Regions from separate parts of the Homo sapiens genome. Here regions 2 and 3 are each linked to region 1. The links come from fine-mapping of genetic effects on gene expression. A gene starts in region 1. Each other region holds a variant in brackets. All regions are shown on one strand. Distances are from middle to middle. Region 1 holds the start of TXK (TXK tyrosine kinase). Region 2 overlaps TEC (tec protein tyrosine kinase). Region 3 overlaps LOC105374445 (a long non-coding RNA gene).

What was found. PIP is the estimated chance that this variant, and not a neighbour inherited with it, causes the effect.
Region 2: its variant is fine-mapped to the expression of TXK in monocytes (Quach 2016, PIP 0.95).
Region 3: its variant is fine-mapped to the expression of TXK in neutrophils (BLUEPRINT, PIP 0.95).

What each region holds. Positions count from the first base shown.
Region 1 is chr4:48,132,799-48,135,562 of GRCh38, forward strand. TXK (TXK tyrosine kinase) reads right to left here and starts at 1,452. Exons shown (of 15, transcript NM_003328.3): 1 at 1,357-1,452. The coding sequence starts at 1,372. RefSeq lists a silencer at 894-1,188.
Region 2 is chr4:48,172,299-48,175,062 of GRCh38, forward strand. All of the region lies in intron 3 of TEC (tec protein tyrosine kinase), which reads right to left. Among named protein-coding and RNA genes, the nearest start is that of TXK, 39 kb to the left of the region's middle. The variant T/C (reference allele first, on the strand shown) is at 1,258.
Region 3 is chr4:48,290,926-48,293,689 of GRCh38, forward strand. It overlaps LOC105374445 (a long non-coding RNA gene), which reads left to right. Exons shown (of 2, transcript XR_007058111.1): 2 at 876-2,101. Among named protein-coding and RNA genes, the nearest start is that of TEC, 22 kb to the left of the region's middle. RefSeq lists an enhancer at 421-1,416. The variant G/C (reference allele first, on the strand shown) is at 1,759.

The DNA of each region.
Region 1 (2,764 bases):
AGCCAGGCATGGTGGCATGCGCCTGTAGTCCCAGCTACTCGGGAGGCTGAGGCAGGAGAACCACTTGAACCCAGGAGGTGGAGGTTGCAGTGAGCTGAGATCGTGCCACTGCACTCCAGCCTGGGTGACAGAGCAAGACTCTGTCTAAAAAAAAAAAAAAAGTCTCATACTTAAATCCTGCGTCTGACAACCATATGAGTTTCTGGCAAGATTTAAACTTTCAAAGGCACAATTTTCTTATTGGCTAGATAAGAATAACAATTTTCACCTTGCCAGTTTGTAGTGAAGATTTCAGATAATGAATATAAAGGAACTGGTATAGACCATGGCCCATAGTAGGTGCTCAATAAATACCTTTATAAAGAAACAAACACATTGCAATTCTGATATGACGGCTGCCTTCTTATTTAGAAGACTATTCTGCTTGGTTTTTTTTTTTATTCTAATTTCTTTGGATTTATAAGCATCCCCCACAGCTCTTTCAAACCAAGGATCTTCACAGATAACAGTGTCTAGGGAATCTTTCTCTGTTCTCCTAAAACAAGCACTTATTTTTAATGATGGTCTTATATTCTATAAAAATATTAAAATAACATCTTCATATGTAGTATTATATATGAGGGAAAGAGACATTTGAGCCAGTGTTCACACTTGACCATGTTCACACTTTTAACCAGGTAGAGACTCGTGACTTTGACTCTTATTTTGGCCTTTACTCAGGCTCTGACTGCAGATAAGAATCAGTTTTGCCTAAATTTCAATTGCTTGGGAAAGGTCCTCGATAACGGAAGTCTACATAGAATTGTGAATAAATACCCCTGTGAAAATAAAGGTTAAGTCTATATGTTTACTTGATAAAGCAGATAATTTCAGAGTATAAACACAGTTGTGTTTTGACTTCTCTTCCTTTTGCCTTAAATATAGATATTTATTTGTGTGTGTGTGTATGTGTGTGTATTTATATATATATAAAGTTGCCCACTGTGATCCACCACTGCTGGAGCAAATCCAGAACTAGAACTTGGTCTCCTGGCCTTCAGCCCAGAGCTCATTACAGTCTCATTCTAAAAACAAGTACTTCATACTGATTGCATTTCTACACACACATATGCAGATTTCTGGACACTCTTTCTGTTTTTCTTTCATTTATGTTCTCAATGCTGAACCTTTATTAGAATTACATCATCACTGTGGTTCTTTAAATAAGAAACAAAACTCTGTCACAACATCTGAGGAAATTATCTTTTAATGTCCCCAAGCTCTATGCCTTGGAAAAAAAAAACTTCCTCTGCTGTTCAAGAATAACAGGCCCCAGAACAAGCCCCAAAAATAAATGACAAAGCCCATCTTACTCACAGGAGGAAAGGATCATGGTAGCCCCTTCTGCGGGGAGCACACAACAGTCTTCAGTTCTTCTGCGGTGCTCTACTCACAAAAACACATCTTTCAACTGAAATCATAGTTCGCTCAAGATGTTTCTCACGGGCAGAGTTAACCCCACCTATTTTCCTGTTCTGAAAACCTCAGAAGAGTATAAATGACAACCAATGGCATATATAAGAAAGCTCAGTAATCTCCATCCCAATCTCTGAGGGTATCTGCTATTAGTCTCTCATCCCCAAAGGTGTGGGTGACTCGCAAACATCATTTTCAAGAAATCACAAAATTTTGGTAAAAGGCACCTTTAAAATTATCAAATCAAACTGCCCTCTCTGGACTGGGAAGGAAATGAAGGCACAGACAGAATAAGGGACTTGCCCAAGGCCACACCGTGAGTGGCAGAAACAATTAGATTCTAGGCTCTGGAATATTGAGTTTAGAATGTTCCATCCTCCCACTCAGCAGACACTTTATTTGGGGGAAGTCAATCTAGTAATAACCCTAAAATGTGATTGGGGGATGGCTGAGAAATATAAAAACACCAACAATACAAAACACACTTGGGAGTTTCACTTCATCCCACTGGAAAGCATAACCATGTGTCAACTAATTAACAGAGCAACTTTAATGAAGACACAGCATATTCTAATCGCCCTTCCAATTTCCTGGTTTAGATTAAGGTCTCCTTAGCATTCTGGGTGATGACTGTTATTTTTACTTCACCTTTTGCCTTTGTTATGCTTTCGTATAAAACTTTTTTTCTAAGTCTTAGTGAAAAATATTTAAAGATTTTTGAAGGAAATGTTGACAAATGTTGCCAGGTGCTATCTATCTTGTTTTCCCATAAAAAGCATACACTGACCATTAGGACAGGGACTCTATCTTCTCCTCACTCTCTTTCATACCACCTAGTACTTCCCGTAGCTCCTCAAGGTGAAAAGGGAAGTATGGGATGGGAGGAGGGAAGGTCAGGAAGGAAGGAGAAAAGGCTGACAGTGATAGTAAGGTAGAGTGTGCCAGGACCGACTCCTTCAATGAGCTACAAGTCAGTTAAAAGTTGTGCATGGTTAGCAACCAAAATGCCCATCAATGATAGGCTGGATAAAGAAAATGTGGTACATATACACCGTGGAATATTATGCAGCTATACAGAATGAAATCATGTCCTTTGCAGGGACATGGATGGAACTGGAAGCCGTTATCCTTAGCAAAGTAATGCAGGAACAGAAAACCAAACACCACATGTTCTCACTTATAAGTGGGAACTGAACCATGAAACACATGGACACAGGGAGGGGAACAACACATACTGGGGCCTGTTGGGGAGGGCAGATGAGGGGAGAGCATCAGGAAAAATAGCTAATGCATGCCAGGCTAATATCAG
Region 2 (2,764 bases), 40 kb after region 1:
CATGGCTAGAAACCTCCCTTTGTCACGTCCACACCCACTGGATTGAAAACCAAATAGCTCTTTCATTGATAAATGGTTATCACTGACCATATTCAATAGAGAATTCCTTCTTATTCATTTAAATCAAAGGAATGTACTTTTTTTTTTTTTCTTAGAGATGGGGTCTTGCTCTGTTGCCCATGCTGGATGGCAGGGGTGGAATTACAGCTCACTACAACCTGGAACCCCCTCGGCTCAAGTGATCTTCCCACCTGAGCCTCCAAAGTGCTAGGATTACAGGTGTGAGAGCCACGGTAACCAGCCAGAAATGCACTGTAATAGTAATGTGAACACCATAGAACAAATGATGCTATATACCATTCGCACCTTGCTGGAACTGCATAAGACACAAAAATGAATCGGACATGAAGCCTGTTTCTAAGACAAATATAGAAATACCTTATTACAAGACAGAAAGTGAGCCATGATATCAGAGCGATAAAGTGCTAAAGGAGATGTGAAGAGATGTGTTTCCTCATTTGCTCCATGATTTTCACATTTATGCAGGCTTGCCCACACAACCAACTCTGTACAGAAGGAACTATGCACCGTGAACTAGTCATTCTGAATTGACATTGAGATGTCTGGAAAAGACTGCTAGGGCCTTGGACCTTCCAGAAACCTGTGGTGTATTGTAATAACAATTTAATTTATTATAATAATTTACTGAGTCCCCACAATTGGGCTAAGCACTTTATATGCACTGCCTCATATCATCCATACAGCAATCCAGTTCTTTCTTAGTGTTAGAATCCTCTTTTTTCAAATGACAAAACCAAAGTGGCTGAGGTTAAGTCATATGAGTAGGATATTTAACCCCCAAATATCCCTTGACTATTCCCCTCCTGGAATCTGCCTTTCCAGACTCCAAGCAGTCTAACTTCCCCACAAAACTCATCTCGTGTCAGTACCGTGAGCCTGTGAAACTTCCTTAAAGTTTGTTAGACTAGCTAACCGCCTCCCCCCACCAAAAAAAACCTAATCCAAATTCAGAGTTTCGATAACTAAAACTAGCTTGATATATTACCTAGCTAACTTGGGGCATTTGTATTTCTACGAGAAGTTTCTAGGAATAGCACCCTGTTTTGGCATCTCAGGCTGAAGAGGTATTTGTGGGCCAGTATCTCCCTGAGCAAACCTCAGATCACACAATGTTGGCCTCTTGGGGAGAAGGATCCAGGGAGCTGTGTTTCTCTCTGCCTTAATTCTTGTGCTGAG[T/C]CATCCTACCACAGCAGAGGCTGTTGGGAGGGAAGAGCTTTGCAAACTTCAAGTGCAGAAACCATTTAAACAAGGAGGGAATACTCTCCCTCAGTAACACTACCCACTGGTAGTTACCCACCCTCCTATTTATATCTTCCATCCACTCATTCATTTATTCCATAGACTTAATAGTGTGGTGTAGGAGAAACAGCACAGACAAAAGGTAGACAGATCTGGGTTTGAAGCCCAGGGAAGACATGCCAGCTCCTGGGGATCTCCCAGCTGCCATCAGAATGACTCATCTAGAAAAGCATGAAGGAGCAACCATCCCATCTAGGCAGCTGGTGTGGATTCCCCACCATTCTCTCCATCCGTCCTACTTTCTTCTCCCAGTGTCTTTTGAAAATGTCTACTTCTACTTTTATTGTTTTCACTTTGCATCTGAACCTAATGTAAAATTTCACTATGAAAATGTGAAACTAGGATCTATACTTTCTTAGTTATACTTAAGTTATAATAAGAGAGGGTATTTTTCACCTTTTAAATCATGCTGCTTTAAATTGTATAAAGCTCAAGCTTATCCCTTCTTGATTAATTTTTCAGATTGTTTTCAAACTTTTCTCATATTTATTCATCTCAACAATTTTAGTAGTTCAGGGATGGAATGCGTTCTGTTCTACTTGTATTATCATTCTTAAAAGCAACCCAAAACTTGCAGAGTGAATCTCTCTTTCTTGGACAGCAAAAATCCTAATGCTGGGTCCAGAATCATGACAGCCACAGCTCCCCAATGCTGTCAATCCCTAGCATGTCTAATAGCCATCAAAGCTGTGGTAGGAGGCCCGGTGCAGTGGCTCACGACTGTAATCTCAGTACTTTGGGAGGCTGAGGCAGGCAGATCACTTGAGGCCAGGAGTTCGAGACCAGCCTGGCCAACATGGTGAAACCCTGTCTCTACTAAAAATACAAAAATTAGCCAGGCATGGTGGTATATGCCTATAATCCCAGCTACTTGGGTGGCTGAGGCATGAGAATCGCTTGAACCTGGGAAGTGGAGGTCTCAGTGAGCTGAGATCATACCACTGCACTCCAGCCTGGGTGACAAAGGAAGACTCCATCTCAAAGGAAAAAAAAAAAAAGAAGTGTGGTAGGAATGGTTCTCTGCTAAATTTCCATTATATATGCATTAAACATACTTAAGAAGAAGGTTTAAATTTATCTTACTTCTAGATCCAGGTGGTAGGTGTAATATTAGGTGTAATATTAATAGCAGCAGCAGTAGTAAGAGAATAGCAATAGTAATAATAGCAACTACCACTTACCTTGCTCTGATTATATGTCAAAGCTATTTATATATCACATCAGTTAATCCTCACAACAACCCCATGAAATGAGTACTATTATTGTTATTATTCCCATTTTTTAAGAGAGGAAACAGGCACAGAGAGGTTAAGTGACTTACACAAGCTCACATAGCCAGTAAGCAAATCAGGCAGTTTGGCCTCAGAGTCACCTCTCTAAGCAC
Region 3 (2,764 bases), 160 kb after region 1:
GGCGGATCACGAGATCAGGAGATCGAGACTATCCTGGCTAACATGGTGAAGCCCCATCTCTACTAAAAATACAAAAAATTAGCCAGGCATGGAGGCGGGCGCCTGTAGTCCCAGCTACTCGGGAGGCTGAGGCAGGAGAACCTGGGAGGCGGAGCTTGCAGTGAGCTGAGATTGCACCACTGCACTCCAGCCTGGGTGACAGAGCGAGACTCTGTCTCAAAAAAAAAAAAAAAAAAAATGCTGTGTTCCTAACCCACTGAGAAGGATTAAGCTGGGTGGTTTTAGATGGACAGATAATATGGTCCAACTTTGAATTGAGAAGGGGTGAAGTGAAGGCAAAAGTATTTGAAGCCCCAACTCACGTCCTTTCCTCCTGTCTCTGAATTCATCTAAATCAGAATCTCCAGTCACTTTACACTGATGAACCAACCCCAGGCCTCCAGGTAACATTTCCAAGGGAAGCTGTGATGGGCTGAATTATGTCCTCCCAAAATTCATAGGTTAAAGCTGTAACCCCCAAAGTGACTGTATTTGTAAATGGGAACTGTCAGGAGGTAATTAAGGTTAAATGACATCCTAAGTGTGGGGTCCTAATCCAATAGGACTGGCGTCCTTATAAGAAGATAAAGAGATTACAGGAGTGAGCCACCCTGCCCAGCAGAGGCAGGCAGATCATGAGGTCAGGAGATCAAGACCATCCTGGCCAACATGGTGAAATTCTGTTGCCAAGACCAGCTTGGCTGGGGAGACCCTAACCCAGCGGCGCTAGAGGAATTAAAGACACACATGCCCTCTCCCTCTCCCTCTCCCTCTTGCTCTCCCCACGGTCTCCCTCTTGCTCTCCCCACAGTCTCCCTCTCCCTCTCTTTCCACAGTCTCCCTCTGATGCCGAGCCGAAACTGGACTGTACTGCTGCCATCTCGGCTCACTGCAACCTCCCTGCCTGATTCTCCTGCCTCAGCCTGCCCAGTGCCTGTGATTGCAGGCGCGCGCCGCCACGCCTGACTGGTTTTCGTATATTTTTTTTGGTGGAAACGGGGTTTCGCTGTGTTGGCCGGGCTGGTCTCCAGCTCCTAACCACGAGTGATCTGCCAGCCTCGGCCTCCCAAGGTGCCGGGATTGCAGATGGAGTCTCGTTCACTCAGTGCTCAATGTTGCCCAGGCTGGAGTGCAGTGGCTTGATCTCGGCTAGCTACAACCTCCACCTCCCAGCCGCCTGCCTTGGCCTCCCAAAGTGCCGAGATTGTAGCCTCTGCCCGGCCGCCACCCGGTCTGGGAAGTGAGCGTCTCTGCCTGGCCGCCCATCGTCTGGGATGTGAGGAGCCCCTCTGCCCGGCTGCCCAGCCTGGGAAGTGAGGAGTGCCTCTTCCTGGCCATCATGTCTAGGAAGTGAGGATCATCTCTGCCTGGCCGCCAATCGTCTGAGATGTGGGGAGTGCCTCTGCCCCGCCGCCCCATCTGGGATGTGAGGAGCGCCTCTGCCCGGCCGAGACCCCATCTGGGAGGTGAGGAGCGTCTCTGCCCGGCCGCCCCGTCTGAAGTGAGGAGCCCCTCTGCCCGACAGCCGCCCCATCTGAGAAGTGAGGAGCCCCTCCGCCCGGCAGCCGCCCCGTCTGAGAAGTGAGGAGCCCCTCTGCCCAGCAGCTGCCCCGTCTGGGAAGTGAGGAACGTCTCCATCCGGCAGCCGCCCTGTCTGGGAGGGAGGCGGGGGGCAGCCCCCGCCCGGCCAGCCGACCCGACCGGGAGGGAGGTGGGGGG[G/C]CAGCCCCCGCCCCGCCAGCCGCCCCGTCCGGGAGGGAGGTAGGGGGGCAGCCCCCGCCCGGCCAGCCGCTCCGTCCAGGAGGGAGGTGGGGGGCGCCTCTGCCCTGCCGCCCCTTCTGGGAAGTGAGGAGCCCCTCTGCCCGGCTGCCACCCCGTCTGGTAGGTGTACCCAACAGCTCATTGAGAACGGGCCATGATGACGATGACGGTCTTGTCGAATAGTAAAGGGGGAAATGTGGGGAAAAGATAGAGAAATCAGATTGTTGCTATGTCTGTGTAGTAAGAAGTAGACATGGGAGACGCCATTTTGTTCTGTACTAAGAAAAATTCTTCTGCCTTGGGATCCTGTTGATCTTTGACCTTACCCCCAACCCTGTGCTCTCTGAAACATGTGCTGTGTCCACTCAGGGTTAAATGGATTAAGGGCGGTGCAAGATGTGCTTTGTTAAACAGATGCTTGAAGGCAGCATGCTCGTTAAGAGTCATCACCACTCCCTAATCTCAAGTACCCAGGGACACAAACACTGCGGAAGGCCGCAGGGTCCTCTGCCTAGGAAAACCAGAGACCTTTGTTCACTTGTTTATCTGCTGACCTTCCCTCCACTATTGTCCTATGACCCTGCCAAATCCCCCTCTGCGAGAAACACCCAAATATGATCAATAAAAAAAAAAAAAAGGAAAAAAAGACACACATGCAGAAATATAGAGGTGTGAAGTGGGAAATGAGGGGTCTCACAGCCTTCAGAGCTGAAAGCCCCGAACAGAGATTTACCCACATATTTATTAACAGCAAGCCAGTCATTAGCATTGTTTCTATAGATATTCGATTAACTAAAAGTATCCCTTATGGGAAACGAAGGGGTGGGCCGAAATAAAGGGGTGGGTCTGGCTAGTTATTTGCAGCAGGAATATGCCCTTAAGGCAGAGATCGCTCATGCTACTGTTTGTGGTTTAAGAATGCCTTTAAGCGGTTTTCTGCCCTGGGCAGGCCAGGTGTTCCTTGCTC